Linked DNA regions of Homo sapiens: region 2 is linked to region 1. Evidence: fine-mapped expression QTL. A gene starts in region 1. The other region holds a variant in brackets. All regions are shown on one strand. Distances are from middle to middle.

What was found.
Region 2: its variant is fine-mapped to the expression of IL6R in whole blood (INTERVAL, PIP above 0.99).

The regions. Positions count from the first base shown.
Region 1 is chr1:154,400,216-154,410,105 of GRCh38, reverse strand. It overlaps IL6R (interleukin 6 receptor), which reads right to left and starts at 4,763. Exons shown (of 10, transcript NM_000565.4): 1 at 4,392-4,763. The coding sequence starts at 4,476. IL6R-AS1 (IL6R antisense RNA 1) reads left to right here and starts at 3,542. Exons shown (of 2, transcript NR_147855.1): 1 at 3,542-3,667; 2 at 6,149-7,785. RefSeq lists an enhancer at 3,633-4,239 and silencers at 4,479-4,628, 4,829-4,958.
Region 2 is chr1:154,463,045-154,471,044 of GRCh38, reverse strand. IL6R (interleukin 6 receptor) reads right to left here. Exons shown (of 10, transcript NM_000565.4): 10 at 1,595-5,911. The coding sequence ends at 5,665. It also overlaps a transcript of SHE not described here. Among named protein-coding and RNA genes, the nearest start is that of TDRD10, 35 kb to the left of the region's middle. RefSeq lists an enhancer at 5,579-6,080. The variant T/C (reference allele first, on the strand shown) is at 4,183.

The DNA of each region.
Region 1 (9,890 bases):
TCCAGGGCAGGGAGCATCCATGTGTCCCCACAGAGCCCTCTGCTCCAGAACATAACACACCCTCAGGTAGTACACATTGTTAAAGAGGAGGCAAGAATTTTCCTGCCCAAGATGGACATATAGGGAATCTCTAGAGATTTGTATATTTTCTTCAGGTCTTCACTCAAATATTATGTTCTCAGCAAGGCATTCCCTGGCCTCCCATCCAAGGCACCATGCCACCCCACCCTGCCACAAACACACATGGGGTCTGTCTCCCTCTCGGCTTTAGTTTTTCTCCTTAGCACTAGTCGCTAGCATACCACATACTTAATTTACATCCTGTTAATAGTCTCCCACACTAGAATGAAACTCAACTAAGCCTGGGGTTTTTGTCTCTTTTATTCATGGTGTATCTCCAGCTCTTAGAATAGTGCCTGGAACAGAGTAGGAGGTGTTCACTCCAAAAATATATTTTTGGAGTGAATGAATGATCACCTACACTTATTTAAGCACTTGCTGTGTGTTAGGGACTTCTGTAAACACTCTATTTAATACCTTACTTAGCTCATCTCATCTTCATAACCACCCTTCGAGGTAATACAATTATTTCTATTTTCTAGAACACTGGCTGTCAAAGAAGTTAAATCACTTGCCCAAGGTGTTATCATTTTTACTTGGCAGTGCAGGGCAGAGATGTGCCTGGCTTGAAGACCTTAGCCATCACCTATGCAAAATGAGCTGTGTTCAGGTGGAGGAGAGCAGAAGGCAGAGGGGGATAAAGGAAAAGAGAACAGAAAACCTCTGGAAGAAACTGGTTAACACTCTAGCCCAGCACCGTCCAGTAGGGCTTTCCACGATGATGGAAGAGATCTGTATCTGCACTGTTCAGTACAGTAGCCACTAGCAATGTGAGTGTTGAGCACTTAAAATGTGACTAGTGCAACTAAGAAACTAAGTTTTTATTTGATTTCATTTAAATTAATTTTTTGGAGACAGGGTCTCCTGTCGCCCAGACTGGAATTCGGTAGTGCAAACATGGCTCCATGCAGACTGGACTCAAGTGATTCTCCCACCTCAGCCTTCTCAGTAGCAGGGACTACAGGCTCATGTCACTGTGCCCAGCTAATTTTTTAAATCTTTTTGTAGAGACGGCATCTCACCCTGTTGCCCAGGCTGGTCTCCAACTCCTGAGCTCAAGAGATCCTCCTGCCTCAGCCTCCCAAAGTACTGGGATTACAGGCGTGAGTCACTGCGCTGGCATAATTTAAATTTAAATAGGTACACGTGGCTAGTGGCTACCGTATTACAGAGCACAGCTTCAATCCAGACTAGATTCATTGACTGGAAACTCTTTTGCTTGCTGGGTCTGTGGCTTCCAGGCCTGGTGGGACCAGGATTCAGGAGACGGGGGAAGGGAGTGTATATTTTCAGCAGTCAGCACCTAGGTTACTTTGTGTAATCTACAAATACCCAGTGAGGGGAGTATTTGTTTACCCTGGCTGCTGAGGGCTGGAGATGAGGGTCAGGGTCAGGATCAGTGTGCCTGCTGCCTTGGGATCTTGGTCCTCAGTCAGAGGAACTTCCTCTCTCTAACCACCCCCTACCCCAAGCCAGACAATCTGTTCACGGGTAGTTGGTACCCAGTGGCCCGGTCAGAGTCTGGGGTTTCTCAGCCCTTCTCAGGATTTACCCATGACCATTTTCAGGCTCCTTTTAGGGTGGAGTCTGCATAGCTGATCCTACACAGGCCTCACAGGCTCTACACCGACTCAAGAAATGTTTGCTGCAATGAATAAACAAGCAGCAAGCCAAAGCAAGGAGAGATTTCTGGCAACAGAGAGCCCGAAGCGGGAGGGCCTTCATTCAGTTCCTCAATGACACCATTTAGGCAGCCGTCCTCAAACCTGACAGTGCCTAAGAATCACAAGGGGCAGTTTGTTTAAAAGGACATGCCCCAGGCCTCACTCCTAGGTGTTCTTATTTAATAAATCTGGGTTAGGGTTCAAAAATCATCATGTTTACCAAAGCCCTCCCACCCAGCACACACACCAGATCTGATGCTAGGCTCAGAACTAAGCTTTTGAGAAATACTGATTTAGGGTGAGGCTAGGCACGTGTGTGGGTAATGGGGGCAGGAAGAGGTGCCCTAGAAGGAAATTCAGAAGCTGAGATAGCTCTTTGAGATACTTAAAGGTATACATACTTCTTTTGTGTATTTTCTTGCATTGCAGTAGGAAGAGGGAACTTGAGTCACCCAAGTCCAGCCTTCCAGCACCAGAGTGTTGGAACCGGCAGAAGCCTAAGTCCCAGCTAGTCCAGGCCCTTAGACAACGAGTACACCTGAGAAGTCCTGGCAGCTCCAGGGTGTGTGGGCGGCAGCTGATCCCGAGGAAAACAAACCTCTGGGCTCTAAGAGCCCCGCAGGCTGTACCTGCGGATTTCCCCTCTCAGCCAACTCCAGCCTCTGCTCCCCCTCTGCTCCTCACTTCTCTAAAGCGAAACATCTCACAGTCATTTGCTCCATGCTTCCTGTACGATTTCTTTATTTTTACTCTCCAGTTTGTGGGCTGAGTCTGTGTGGGTGTGGGAGAGGGGCTGGGTATTTCTACTTCTCTGCATTTTCCTTCTGAGCTGGGAGGACTTTCACTTCCTCCCCAGTCTCTCAGTTCTGCCTTTCATGGGCTGTTCAGGCCATGAGACCACCTCTCCTAATCCTTCCTGAGCACCAGGGAAATGGAAAACTGACTGTAACTGGCTGCCCTGGAAGGGCCTAGCATCCACTCAGGAGCAACAGGTGGTGGCAACTACAGCAGTAACAGTAACCTCCCTGGGGCAGGAGCCTTGGGCTGGCGTGACAGCAGCAGAGGCAGCCAAGGGAGCCCTGCTTGCTCCTGAGGCCATCCGAGCCCTGGAACCTGTCTTGCATCCCTCTAACACCACCATGGGCAAGCCTGGGCCTCCACTTCCCTCCCTCAGCCTTTTCTGTCCCAGCACTCAGCCAGACAAGAGTGACTCTCAGCTTGCCCCAATGCCCCCAGCTCTGCCTGCTGATCTAGTTCTATATTTGAGAGTCTTAGACATCTACCACACTGGAGCACAGAGCCACGGGAGGGGTTGGCCTCCATCACCGGGGCCTGACAACCTGCCATCCCGCCATCCCAACCTCCCTGAACCTCAGTCTCCTCTTTCAAACAAAGTTATATGTAGATACAGTGGAGGATTAGAAAACATTGAATGGGTGCCCCAATCAACAGTGTCTGTTACTGGCAGGAGTTATAAATGTGTATTGAAAATGGAATCCCTTCTTTTTTTCTTCCAATCATAAGGACCACAACCATCCAAAAAGCAAAGAGAGCCTCAGACACTCCAGCTCAGCCTCTAGTTGCAGAAAGTCACCTCCTCAAAGGGAGAGATCAGTGTTCACCTAGGACTGGAATTCAGTGTGATCTAGTGGTTGAAAGTCTTAGCCTTCAGCCTCCCCAGCCTGTCAGCTGTTCCAGAAGCCTGTCAGCTGCCCCTTAGTTTTCTGCTGTGTCCTCAAAGAAGCACTGGGACCCTAAAATAAACCTCTGGAGAGCCAGTTGCCCAACTCTTCCAGAAGAGAGACTAGACACGCAGCTGGGCATGCGGCCAGAGCCCAAGAAAAGCCTGGTTTGCCAGGGGCAGATTACAGTCAACGGGAGCAGTAAGTGCCTCTGCCCTCTCCCTCACGGGTCCTTCTCTTTTCTAGAGGGGAGTCCAGCACGTGCCAGCCCCAGGAGGTCTCACTCCCTTGCCAGCCTCCCGACTCAATTCCCAGGACTGGGGCACTTGGCTTCCCAGAGTTGGTGGCTGCCAAAGTGACTCCGTGCAGCGGGAAGATCCGTGACTCAGCGCCCGTGATGTCAGTCCCTTCATAGTCAGGGCACTGTCATCCACACATGCACCCGCGGGGGTGGGGGGAGGACCAGGCGAGGTGGACCCCCAATGCAGAGGGAGAAGAGGGGCGCTGGTACAAAGGACTCCCCAGGCGGGTACATCACCCCGCTGGGGCGCGCCCTCTCGGGCAGTCTCCCCTTAGAGTAACCTGGGACGCGGTTGTGTAAAGGCTCCTGGGGGCACTGGGAAGGAAGCTCGAGAGTCAGGTTTGCAAGGACACAGTCCTGTACACAGACCGCAGGGTTCCCGCACAGCTTCACCGGGCATTCCGGGGAGCGCTCCGGACCAAGGGAGCAAGCGCAGCAGGGGGCGCAAGAGCCACTACCCGCGACCACACAGCTAGGTACCCGCGGGGCCTCAAGGCAGCCACAGAAAAGGGGATCCGTCGCACCTCCTTTCCTCCCTCCAGCCTCCCACAGACTGCGGTGACCAAGGCGGTTTCCCCCAGCCGCTAGCTGCCCCAGCCCTCCAGGTGCGCCCGAAGCCCTTACCCTGCGCAGGGCAGCGCCTTGGGGCCAGCGCCGCTCCCGGCGCGGCCAGCAGGGCAGCCAGCAGCGCGCAGCCGACGGCCAGCATGCTTCCTCCTCGGCTACCACTCCATGGTCCCGCAGAGGCGGACAGGCTAATGGGAACCGGGCGGCAGGGGTGGCAGGGGCGGGGCGGGGCGGTGGGCGGGCAGGCGGGCTCAGGCCCCGGGGGCAGCCCCCATCCGCAGGAGCCCGGCTCTCTACACACACTGCGAGTCCCTCGGCCCCGCGCCGCGCTCGGCTCCTCTCCCTCTGGCCCGGCTCAGTGTCAGTGCGACTTCCCACTCGCACATGACTCAGAGCGGCGGACGGTCCTGGCAACGCAGGAAAACATTTGAGGAACTCGCGCTGGAGCGTCTCTGGGCCGTCCCAGGGTGCGGTTACGAAAGCCGGAGCGGATGGCGCAACAGCCCCGCGCACCGGCCGACCGAGGGGGTGGCTTCCTGCCACAGCGCCGCACCTGAGCGGGGAGAACAGGGGACCGCCAGCCCCACCAGAGCCCTTCCTCCCGGTTCTGTTGATGAGAAAAGGGCGTATCAGCCACCAGTGGGCAGTGGCCTAGTTTTGATTTTTGGTTTCGTGAACGGGATTACGCTGTGAAAGGCACACCTGGAGAGCCCTCGAGGAGGCGATGTTCCTCTTACCCTTAGGGTAAAACAGTGCTTGGTAGCCCGGTTGCCCACTGGAATCAGCCAGGAGCCCTAAAACCCACCAATGTCTGGGTCGGGTCTCCAGAGATTCTGATTTCATCGGTCTGGGGTGAGGCTTGGGCATCGGAAGACTCACCACCGTAAAGGCACAGTCTTTCTGCCCAGCTGCTCCTCGCAGGCTGCAGCAGAGGCAAGGAAACGGTTTGGACTTTGCAGTCAGATAGACCTGGGTCCCCATTTAGACCTACCATCTACTGTGTCTGTGACTTCGGTTCAGAATCTGAGTCTCCATTTCCTCATCTGTCAGAGATAAGAAAGCCTATGCTGCCCAGGGTTATTAGGAAGGTTCTGTGGATGGCACCTAAACACCTGACACACGGTCTGGGCCACACGTGCTCAGTAGACATCAGAACGTTCATGGCTGCCCTCCTGACTTGACAGACAGACACTAACACCAGGGGCAGTGGCTCACGCCTGTAACCCCAACACTTTGGGAGAGCCGGGTGGGTGGATTGCTTCAGTCCAGGAATTCTAGACCAGCCTGTGTAACAAAGTGAGACCCCCATTTCTATAAAAAAATTTAAAAATTAGCTGGGTGTGGTGGTACACACCTATAGTCCCAGCTACTAGGGAAGCTGAGGTGGGAAAATTGCTTGAGTCCGGGAGATCCAGGGTACAGTGAGCCGTGATTGGGGGCTGCTACTCCAGCCTGGATGACAGTGAGACCCTGTCTGGAAAGAAAAAAAAAAAAAGAAAAGAAAGAAAGAAAAGGAAGGGAGGAGGGAGGGAGGGAGGGAAGGAGGGATAGAGGGGAAGGAAGGAAAGGAAGGAGAGAAAAAAAGAAAGAAACAAGCACCTGGCTTTTGAGCAACCACAAGGACCTTGAAGGGGACCATCTGTCCGTCCCTTGGAGGGGAACTCTCTCAAGGACCCCCACAGAGCCTAAAGCTGATAGGATGGCCTCATAGCTGAATCTGGAGGGAAAGAAAAATGCTGAAATAAAGTTTAGGCTGAGAAGCTTCTAGACCAGCAACTGCTCATTAGAATGTGTTTTTCTACCTTTGGTTTCAGGCCAATCCTAACCCAGATCAAAGATCCTGGGACAGCTGGAACAGGCATGGCCTAATGGAACTCCCAAGTGGACAGGGCCAGGCATGGACGGACAGAGCTTCTGAAACAGTCCTCAGACCCCGTGCATCTGGATCTTTCTGTAGGAACCACCCATCAGCAGTGCCAGACAGAACCAAGCACATGCACTGATCCACCGCACGATGGGAGCTGGTGTGGGTGAGCTTGTTTGCTTTAGCCATGCCCACAGACAGGAACAGAAGAGCACAGTGGAGGCCACCAGCCCTCTCGCCTGCTATTTCAAAAGGGGTTGCAGCAGGGCTGGAAAGCGGTTCCCACTGTGGTTGCCCCCTTCCTCTCTGTGGCACACACAGACCTGAAAATAACCAGAGAGGGACTGTGAGCTGCCAGCCTAAAACAGGAAGGCTGCAGAAAGTCCTAGGCTCAGATAGGAGAGTTTAAAAGAATGTTGAAACCAAGAACGGGCATCACAGATCCCACCTGTCTCTGCACCAAAGCAGACCTCCCCCTCTCTAATCTACTGGTGGGGAGCCTGTGTGCTCTGTAGTCATGCAGATCCCAGCTTTACCACTTGCTGGCTGTGTGACTTAAGCAAGCTATTTAACTTCTCTGAACCCCTATTTCCTGATTTGTAAGATAAGCGCAGCAATATACAAAGTTTTAGTGTTGTGGTTCACATGAAAAAATTTAATCCTGGCCAGGCCGGACGTGGTGCCTCACACCTGTAATTCCAGCACTTTGGGAGGCCAAGGTGGGCAGATCATGAGGTCAGGAGTTCGAGACCAGCCTGACCAACATGGTAAAACCACATCTCTACTAAAAATACAAAAATTAGCCGGGCATGGTGGTGCGTACCGGTAGTCCCAGCTACTCAGGAGGCTGAGGCAGGAGAATCACTTGAACCCAGGAGGCGGAGGTTGCAGTGAACCGAGATGGCACCACTGCACTCCAGCCTGGGCAAGAAGAACGAAACTCCCTCTCAAAAAAAAGAAAAGAAAAAGAAAAAAGAAAGAGAAGAAAGCATACCTGCACAATTCAGCCTGACCTGCCCTCACCCAGACAACAGAAGGAACAATGAAGACTTTAGTTGTCTGAGCCAGAACACTTCTCAGATAACTGTGCTGCTTACAAATTGCTTTACATACACAATCTCCTCTGAAATTCTCAACCCTGAATGCTGGGAGACATTGCCCCCAATTTTCAGATGAGTAGACTGAGGCTAACAGAGGTAAAGTGGCTTGTTCAAAACTGCACTACTAGTAACTGGCAGCTCCAGGGTGAGGTCTGGCTCCTGGCCCAGGACTCTCACTGAGCAAGGGCTCGGTCGGCCCACCCAGGACCAAAGACACTGCAGACCATGGCAGCAGGCACTTGGTGTTCTGTAGTCTGTGAGGGGAGAGCAGAGAGCAGAACCTGGTGTGTGGGACACCCTCTCCTTCACCGGTGTTCCTGCAGGGACCCTCCGTCTCCTGTAAAGGGGGAAGCCCTAGGCTGACTCCCAGCAAGCAAGTCCTCTCTCACCTTTCACCTGAAGCGATGAAGCATCTTAAAGTTTGCCTAAAGCAGAAGTCTACAGGAGACCCACAGAATAAATATGTAAGGTTATTTTGAAACCAAAAGGGACTTGGTCATCATTGCTTCTCCTCCCTCACTTTTTAGATAAGGAGCTAGGCCTCAAGAAGAGAAGTTGCTTGGTAAAGATGGCACAGGCAGTGGTGACAGAGCTGGTCAAGATCCCAGATACCCTGACTCAAAGTGGTCTTTTTAAATTCCCACCCTGCCCCCAACCTCCAGGTCTGGGCTGATGTGTTGGGGCCATTCTCAACTGTGAGAGTTTAAAACTATGCACTTTATTCTCTATTCACCATGTGAATCCATCTTTAGGGACAACGATTATTCTGAGAAGTGCAGTGGGGTAGGGCTGAACTGACCTGCAGACCCCTCCCTGGCCTCTGGCCCTGGAGCCAGCCCCTGGTTAATCAATAATTACAGGAAGGTGCTTCTTATTCTCTGAAACCTTCCCCTCCTGCTTTCTCATCAGCCTGGGAGGAGGTTACGTGGGCAGACAGAGGTCTAATAACAGAACTCAGTGTCTGGCCAGTGGCATCCCTCAGAGTCAGGCCCCAGCCAGGGCCCACTGAGGGCCTCAGCCTGCCTGTGGAGACCCTCGCTTTCACAGTGGAGGAATGCAGCATCCCTGGCTCCGGCAGCATGACAGTCTGGCTCCCCATTGCCTCACCAGGTGAGTTTACACCCAGAAAAGGGATTTGTTTAGCACCATTCTCAGAAAGGGTTCATAAAAGTTTATCCCCTTCTTGTAATATTTAGAGAATGTTATGATTTTTAACTGCTAAAAAGCATCACAGTTATAGCTGGGCATAGTGGCACATGCCTGTAGTCTCAGCTGCTTGGGAGATTGAGGCAGGAGAACTGCATGAGCCCAGGAGGTCAAGGCTGCAGTGACCTATGATTACACCTTTGGCACTCCAGCCTGGGCCACCGAGCAAGACCCCGTCTTTAAAAATAAAAATAAAAATAGGGCCAGGCACAATGCCTCACACCTGTAATCCCAACACTTTGGGAGGCCAAGGCGGGCAGATCATCTGAGGTCAGGAGTTTGAGATCAGCCTGGCCATCATGGTGAAACCCCATCTTTACTAAAAATACAAAAATTAGCCTGGCCTGGTGGCGCATTCCTGTAATCCCAGCTACTTGGGAGGCTGAGGCACAAGAATCTCTTGAACCCAGGAGGCGGAGGTTACAGTGAGCCAAGATTGTGCCACTGCACTCCAGCCTGGGCAACAGAGCAAGACTCTGTCTCAATAAATAAATAAATAAATAAATAAATAAATAAATAAATAGCATCACAATTAAAATTAAATGTAGAATTGTCATATAATCCGGCAGTTCCACTTCTGGATATATTCACAAAAAAATTGAAAGCAGGGACTCAAACAGATATTTGTACACCCGTATTTTTAGCAGCATTATTTACAATAGCCAAAAAGTAGAAACAATTCAAAAGTCCATCAAGAGATGAATGGATAAAAAAATGTGGTATGTACATATAATGAAATATTACTCAGTCTTAAAAAGGAAGGAAATTCTGACATATGCTACAACATGATAAACCTTGAAGACATTATGCTAAGTGAAATAAACCAGACACAAAAGGACAAATATTATATGATTTCATTTATATGAGGTACCTAGAGTAGTCAAATTAATAGAGATAGGAAGCAGAGTGGTAGCTGCCAGGGGTTAGTAGGAGGAGAGCGGGAAGTTATTGTTTAATGGGTACAGAACTTCCGTTTTTGCAAGATGAAAAGAGTTCTGGAGATGGATAGTGGTTATAGTTTCACAATAATGTGCATGTGCTTAATGCCACTGAACCATTTAAAAAATGGTTAAAATGCCCAAATGAGGGGGATTGCTTGAGGCCAGGCGTTCAAGGCTAGCCTGGTCAACATAGCAAGACCCTATCTCTACAAAAAATTTAAAAATTAGCCGGACATGGTGACCCACATCTGTAGTCCCAGCTACTTGGAAAGATAGCTTGAGGCAAGGAGTTTGAGGATGCAGCAAGCTATGACGGCGCCACTGTACTCCAGCCTGGGGGACAGAAAAAGACCTTCCTTATCTTAAATAAATAAATAAAAAGCTAAAATGGGAAATTTCATGTTTTGTATATTTTACCACATTTTTAATAAAGCATCGCAATTAT
Region 2 (8,000 bases), 62 kb before region 1:
TTATTTTTTTTTTGTGTTTTTTTTTTTTTGAGATGGAGTCTCACTCACTCTTTGTCACCCAGGCTGGAGTGCAGTGGTGTGATCTCAGCTCACTGAAACCTCCGCCTCCCGGGTTCAAGCAGTCCTCCTGCCTCAGCCTCCCTAGTAGCTGGAATCACAGGTGACCGCCACCATGCCAGGCAAATTTTTTTTATTTTTTATTTTTGAGACAGAGTCTGGCTCTGTTGCCCAGGCTGGAGTGCAATGGCACGATCTCATCTCACTGCAACCTCTGTCTCCCAGGTTCAAGCGATTCTCCTGCCTCAGCCTCCAGAATAGCTGGGATTACAGGTGCCCGCCACCACATGCAGCTAATTTTTGTATTTTTAGTAGAGACGGGGTTTTGCCATGTTGGCCAGGCTGGTCTCGAACTCCTGACCTCAAGTGATCCACCCACCTCAGCCTCCCAAAGTGCTAGGATTATAGGAGTGAGCCACCGCACCTGGCCTTAAAAGGCCTTTCACCTCGCCAGCACACCTCTGCTACTGGAGGATGGAGGATGGCAAACACTGTTTCCTGCCCCTGCCCTGTAATTCTCACAGATATTCAGAAAGGTTTGGTTGCCCTGTGCCTCAGTAAATAAGGAAAATGCTTTCTTAGAAGGCTGCTCCAGTAACTGCATATTCCTTGCCATCCTCTACAGAAATCACCATCTGCTCTCCTAAGTTCTTCTGGAAAGAGCACCGTAACCATGTCATCCTAACAGCAATGCCATGAAGAAAGGGAGGCAGCTCCCTCCACGTCCTGGCTCCAGTGCCCACTCCCGTGCCCCCTCCATGGCCCACGCAGCCTGGCCACCTGGGTGACATCTGGTCCCTGTGTCACTTTCTGCAAGACAAGGACCAGCCTCAAAGAGGAGAGCATGGTGTCCTGAAGGAGATGGCGGCCACCATCACCTGTCCTGTGGCTTTCCTCTGACTGCCCAGGTGGGGGCCCAGAGGCGGCGCCTCTCAGTCCAGCTTTGAGTGGAGTTACATAATTTCCAGGCTTCCCTGCAGTTCTCGCCTCCCCATCCCTGAACTGTTTACACAGTAGCTCTCACCCACAAAGAGTCCGCATGATGGCTTTTCCTCTGTTTGGAAGATGTGGATGGCTGTGTCCCAAGTTTTTCCTACCTAAGATCCTTTTCAGTAGGGGATGGATTTGGTCTATCTGATGATCAAGAGTTCAGGGTGGCCTTTGTGATAGTGTTACACCCCCTCCCAGGTCCAATAAACAGTCTTCTGACAAATAATGGCCCTTCCTTTTCCTTCCCCACCTGTCCACCACCTGGTAATGTGATGTAAGCGTGGCAAAATCCCACACACCCCTTCCAGAAATCCCAGGACTCGTGTGGGAAATACTGTCATAATTAAAGCCTTCTGAGAAATTGCTGCTTCTTCCTTGAACTTACCTACTTTTGAGCGGTCCTTTAATCCTGCATTAAGGGGATACCCCCCCAAAAATGGTTCTACTTAATTATCCCCCCTTCCTCACTCCTTTCTCCTCATGAATCAGGCAAGCCTTTTTTTTTTAGATGACCCAGATGCCCAAAGCAATAATTACATTTCAAGGGTATTTTTTAAGAGTATTTATTCCAAACACAATGTTCACTTTAAATGCAAAATAGCTGGTAGAAAAAAAAACACTGAAAAATATACTGACCCTTTGCCCCATATACAGACATCAGCCTTTGGTATTTGCTTTCAGGTAATTAGGTAAAACAAACAAACAAAAACTTGAAACTATTATTTATCTCCAAGAAAACAACGTAGAGTTGAGGTATTCTATTTAACAGATGTGATCTCCATCCAATAAGGTCTCTCTGTTAATTAACAGCCTTGTGACATGCTGTTCCAATCCTTTCCTCCTAAAGTAGAATTTCATTTGAGCATATGTTCATAAAACTGACAGTGTTCCTTAATAATCACTAAGGTTGCCATAGAAACTCCCTGGTGCTGGTGCCCAGCCGCACGGAGGACAGGAGGCCTTCACAGGGCACTGAGGAGGGCCTGGCACGGACCCTGAACTGGCCCGCCTGCCCCTCCGTGTGCAGCCCCTGCCCACGGCTGCACGGGACAGCTGGGTGCAGGGCTCTTGCCTCAAAGGGTCACAGGTTGCCCCTGCATCTCCAAATTAAGACCACCAACTCCACCTGGAGCTGGTGTCAGCATCCTCCCCACCTGGGTTAGCCTTCTGGACGTGCTGTGAGATAATAGAGCTCAGCACCAAAGCAGCTGGGAAGACATTCCTGAACATTCTCCAGGAAACAAACCCATAGACCACAACATGCCCAGCCTGCCCCACTGGGCCCTGTTCACTACCAGGTGGGCTTCCAGCCTGGTTCCAGCAACAGATTCCACAACCTGCCGCGGCAACCAGTTTCCTTTCTCCCAAGACAGCAGGGAAGTGCCAGAGGCTCCGTGTGAACTCAGAGCCTGATAAAGAAAGCGTAAGGGCAAGTCCCCATCAGGGCCAAGAGCTCTCTGAGTTACCAAAGGCCTCGTCAACATAGCCAGTGCTACCCCTGGACACATTTCTTGAAAATATTTCATTAATGCTACAAACATTATTGATCATTTTACTTTAGGCCTTGAACCAGCATATTTTTTACTTTCCCCACCCAGCAGGATAAGCTGTCGTATTTAACCTAAATGGTCTCTGTCTCAGCGTTTCACGTCTGGCTGCGTGGCAGATGGCTACAGGTGTTAGGCAAATAACAGCACTGCTGGGGACTCAAGGCAGTGGGGGTGCTGCAGAAACACAGGTAGAAATGCCCCGTGCATTGAGACACATGTTCAGTCACCACAGATTAGAGAACATAGAGAGCTTAGGATGTATACCTGTGTACGCTGAGCCAGGCCTACAGCCCAGAGAAGACATTTTTTCTTCATTTACATTAGCTTATGAAAAATAAAGGGAAAACAACCCTCTTCAATACAAAAACAAAAAAACAAAACAAAGCAATTCCATTACAATAAAAATGAAAGCAATAACAATTTGGAGATCAAAGCTGCCTAGCTCTTGGCAATAATGAGCTATCTGGATTTCACATCTTCCGCTAGCATGGTTCTGCCCGGCTTTGGTAACACCACATGTGGGTAAAACGGTATAAAGAATTGAAGAACTGTGGGCACAGAATCACCCTTACTGCAGATTCTCATTCTTAATATTTCCCTTTAACAGCATTTTGCTGTTCTCAAGTCTCAGAAACTTTATGTGGTGGGATGGGAGGGAACCACCATAACCGCCTGCCTGCCTTTTTTTTTCTTAACTGTTATTGTTCATAATAGAGATGGTGTCTCACTATGTTACCCAGGTTGGTCTCAAACTCCTGAGCTCAAGCAATCCTCCCACCTTGGCCTCCCAAAGTGCTAGGATTACAGGCGTGAGCCACCGCGCCCGGCCATCCTGCCTTTTTGCCAACCTAAGATGAGTTGCCTCAAGCAGCAATAGGGTCTAAAATCTACAGACAAGCCCAGCAATGAAAATCACGGCTTACTGAAGACAGTAACAGCTTAAACCTGGAAAACCGTAAACAAAACATGGTCACTTTCATCCTTTCGCACCTGTCTGGTGATGGTGGTGGTTTTTCTAAGAGGGTAGAGTATTAGAAAAGTTTTGTGGTCTGGTAAATATTGGGTCCATGGTTACACGGCTGATTTAAATCATATCCCCACTCTGGAATACCCTGATAACTTGAGAGCTAACTGGGTAACCACTAACACCACTGAATTTTCAAAGCTCGGACAGAAAAGTCAGCTGAAGTGGTTAATCATGGTGTTACAACTAGACATTTAGTCCTGCTTCAATTCTTGCAGAGCTGAATCAACTCAAGGAACTAAATAAAAAGAGGAAGGCACCGAGGTAAGGGATTTTTTTTAAATGGGATTTTTTTAAAACCTCTTTGATAGCAGAAAGCTCAGGGCTTTCAGGGTGGGGAATTTCTAGGACCCTGCCGGGCAGTCGTGGGAGGCTTCCTTCTCGGCACTGGGACAGGGACCGGACACCCTCTCCATAACCACCTGGGGGAGTAGTCACACGCTGGTTTTTCCCTAGAGTAGAGAAGAGGCAGGCTATTTTTCCACTTTTTAAGACAAAAACAAAATACAGAATGAAACCACAATCTCTTCTCTAATAGGGAAAATATTTTTTCTTTTTCTT[T/C]TTCTTTTTTTGAGACAGGGTCTCACTTGCTCTGTCACCCAGGCTGGAGTGCAGTGGTGCAATCTCGGCTCACTGCAGCCTTGACCTCCCAGGCTCAAGAGATCCTCCCACCTCAGCCCCCCAAGTATCTGGGACTTCAGGCACACTCTACCACACTTGGCTAATTTTTATGCTTTTTGTAGAGATGGGGTTTTATCACATTGCCCAGGCTGATCTCAAACTTCTGGACTCAAGTGATCCTCCTGCCTCGACCTCCCGAAGTGCGTGGGCCACCATGCCTGGCAGGAAAATATTTTTTCTCTTCCTCCTTTTTCACTTGACTTGGTTTTGGGCTAAACAAAGTTATGGTGCTTCCCCCACACCTAAGTAAGTTACTTCTATGCTGACACAGCGAATATTGGATATTCCACCCTCTCAAGAGAAAACAGTCAGCAGTTTTTTAAAAACCAAGTTTAAACACATTCTTGCCAGGCTCATTTTTCTTTTCACATTGTCTTCCTTAATATTATCTTCCCTAGTTACCCAGGTTCAGCTGACAACAAACAAAGCTGCAGTAAAACCGTTTTGATCTCAGAAATGGCAGAAGCCCTCCCTGCTGCTAGCTCTCCTTTGTGGGAGGTGGAGAAGAGAGAACATTGGTTTTCAGAGGCTGTGATCCCCCACTCAGCTCCCACTCTACAGGGGATGGTAGAGACCCTGTGCCCCTCTCCTCTCCTTCCTCTGCTTCTCACCTGAGGTCCTGCAACCCAAAGCCAATGCAGTTGCCTCTGTATTCAGCAAATGCCTAGGATCATCATTCACATTTAGCAAAATGCTAATGAGGAACTAATTATAATTCTGTTGAAAACGACCAGGCCCTGAGATACTGTATTATTCACCCACTCACCCTCAGCTGTTTTTCAACTGTAGGGAAGAAAGGGAGGAGAGAGCTTCTTCCCCCAGCCTTGGCGGTTTAAGTAAAAGCCGTCCCCAGGCCTAGAAAAACAGAATTTGCTAAGGCACTTGGGTTTTAAGAGTTTGAGTTGGAAGATGAAACGATGCAGTGGGCCAGGAGCATGGCGGCTGGAGGAGGCTTTGGCTGGAAATCCATCCCACCTGCCTGAGGGTGCAGCTTGTGCAGAGGTGTTGAGGGGTGGGCTGCCAGCCGCTTCTCCACACCGAGGCCCCCACCAACCTGCCCAGCTTTTGAGTGTCCGTGTGAGTGTCCAAAGAGTCTTGATATGGTTCTCTTCACAGTGGCCCAAGTTCACTCTAGCCCCTTTAAGCTGGGCATTTGGAAAGGGAGGTTTGAAACCTCAACCAGCTGAACAGCTGGAGCAGGCTGATTTTCCCCTGGCGTAGAACCTTCCGCAAGGCTCTTCCGTGAAGCCAAAGGCCGCACACCCCTGAGATAAGCTGGCATGGCAGTGAGAAGCATCTTTTGCTGAGCCCGTTTGTGTTTTATCATCCACAGGGTCCAGGCTGCTGGTGCCACCCAGCCAGCTATCTGGGGAAGAAGTAGTCTGTATTGCTGATGTCATAAGGGCTCCGTGGGTCCCTGGCATCTGGTCGGTTGTGGCTCGAGGTATTGTCAGACCCCAGGCTGCTGGGGGACACCGGTGGGGAGATGAGAGGAACAAGCACTGGGGTGGGTCGAGGCCTCTCCGGGACCAGCTGCCCCAAAGAGTACGGCGGATGCATGCTTGTCTTGCCTTCCTTCAGAGCCCGCAGCTTCCACGTCTTCTTGAACCTTCACACAAACACACAAAGACAAACCACACAGATTTTTAGCTCCCCCTGTGACAAGCCCACAGTGGAAAACACCAACAGCTGGCTGCCCTGGTGGCCTGGCGCGCCCAGGTTTCGGCTCAAAGGAGCAATAACTATCAGCTGTCTTTTTGTTTTTTGTTCATTTGTTTGTTTTGAGACAGGATCTTGCTCTGTTACCCAGGCTGGAGTGCTATGGCGTGATCTCAGCTCACAGCAGCCTCAACCTCCTTGGGCTCAGGTGATTCTTCCACCTCAGCCTCCTGAGTAGCTGGGGCTACAGGTGTGTGCCACTACATCCGACTGATTTTTGTATTTCTCATAGAGACAGGGTTTTGCCATGTTGCTCAGGCTGGTCTTGAATTCCTGGGCTCGAGCAATCCGCCCGCCTCGGCCTCCCAAAGTGCTGGGATTACAGGTATGAGCCGGCACACCCGACCCGACTGTTTTTATCACCAGGGAGTTCACCATACTCTGAAGAGTTGGTGAGTTTCCAAAACACTCCCAAGGAAATAGATGTGTATTGTTGGTCCAATTTACAAGTGAAGAAACTGAGGCACCAAAAAGTCACTTAACAGTCCCTTAATTGTCCCATTGCAGAGGCTGTTCATTAGGTACACATCATCAGTCCCAAATCCATTTACTTAAAAAAAAGAAAAATAGGCTGGGCGCAGTGGCTCACGCCTGTAATCCCCACACATTGGGAGGCCGAGGCGGGCGGATCACCTGAGGTCAGGAGTTCAAGACCAGCCTGGCCAACGTGGTGAAACCCCGTCTCTACTAAAAATACAAAAATTAGCCAGGCGTAGTGGCAGGCACCTGTAATCCCAGATACTTGGGAGGCTGAGGCAGGAGAATCGCTTGAACACGGGAGGCAGAGGTTGCAGTGAGCTGAGATCGTGCCATTGCACTTCAGCCTGGGCAACAAGAGTGAAACTCTGTCTCAAAAATAAAAAAAAAGAAAAGGAAAGAAAATAAAAAAAGAAAGCATTCTTTTAGTAGGGAAAGAAAATGGGCCTCTCGGTCAAAGTAAGGCTGGCAGGAGGCAGATAATTTGCAACCGCCATGTAATAGCAGGAAAAGGGTCCCACTGCTCCCTCAACTGCCTTCCTGTTCCTCTTGCTCCTAATGTTGCTGACCTCCCCAGTTCTCCCTACGCCTCTCGGTCCACTCCCACCATGCTGGTGAGTTCCCACAGACTCAACTGTCGGCACCACTGGGCACAATTTGACTCATCTGACAGGAAAGTCAATGCTACACAGGAAGGAGATAGACATCTTTCTGATCACAGCTTGGTTCACAGTGCTCCACTCTGGGCCCAAAGCCAGGGCTCAGTAACTGAGAAAAGTCACTTGACAGCTCAAAGAAAGATGAAATGGTGACATGGATCTTCAAAAGCACAGTCACGTCCCCTTCCTAAAGGGGCCCTTCAACTGTGCCAGGGTGGCCAGTGCCCCAAGCCTCAGCCCCTCCCTCTTGCTTCCCACTTTGTGACTGACATGCCTCCTAACCCCAAAGTGGGAACAAGGTGGCCTCCCTCAATTCCATGGAAGATCAGTTACTCCAGGAAGGGCTGGGAAAGAGGAGGGGAAACCAATGTCAAAAACAAGATTTGGGGATTTTCCTTGGGTTTCTTTTTATATCGACAGGTTATTCCTGTCCTTGTTATGATAAATAATTAATAGTTGGCTCCAAATCTGCCACTGGCTTTTAGCTTGGTATCCAAATGAAATAAACAATCTGCAGAATATTATTTAGGGCTTCACCATGTGGACACCACACAGGAAGAGAGCCCAGCAGGGCTGCTGACTGGAGCTATGCTGAGTCATTGAATGGAGTTCTCCTGTAAGAAAGGACTGAGGAGAGAATCATTACACTCTGGATTTCAAAGAATTCAGACTCTCTGACCCAGGAATTCTACTTCTGGGAAAAGAAAGAACATAGCTATAAAAAAAAAAAAACCCTTTATGCACAAAGATGTTCAACACAGTGTTTTTTATAAAAGCAAAATAAGGCCGGGTGTGGTGGCTCATGCCTGTAATCCCAGCACTTTGGGAGGCCAAGGTGGGTGG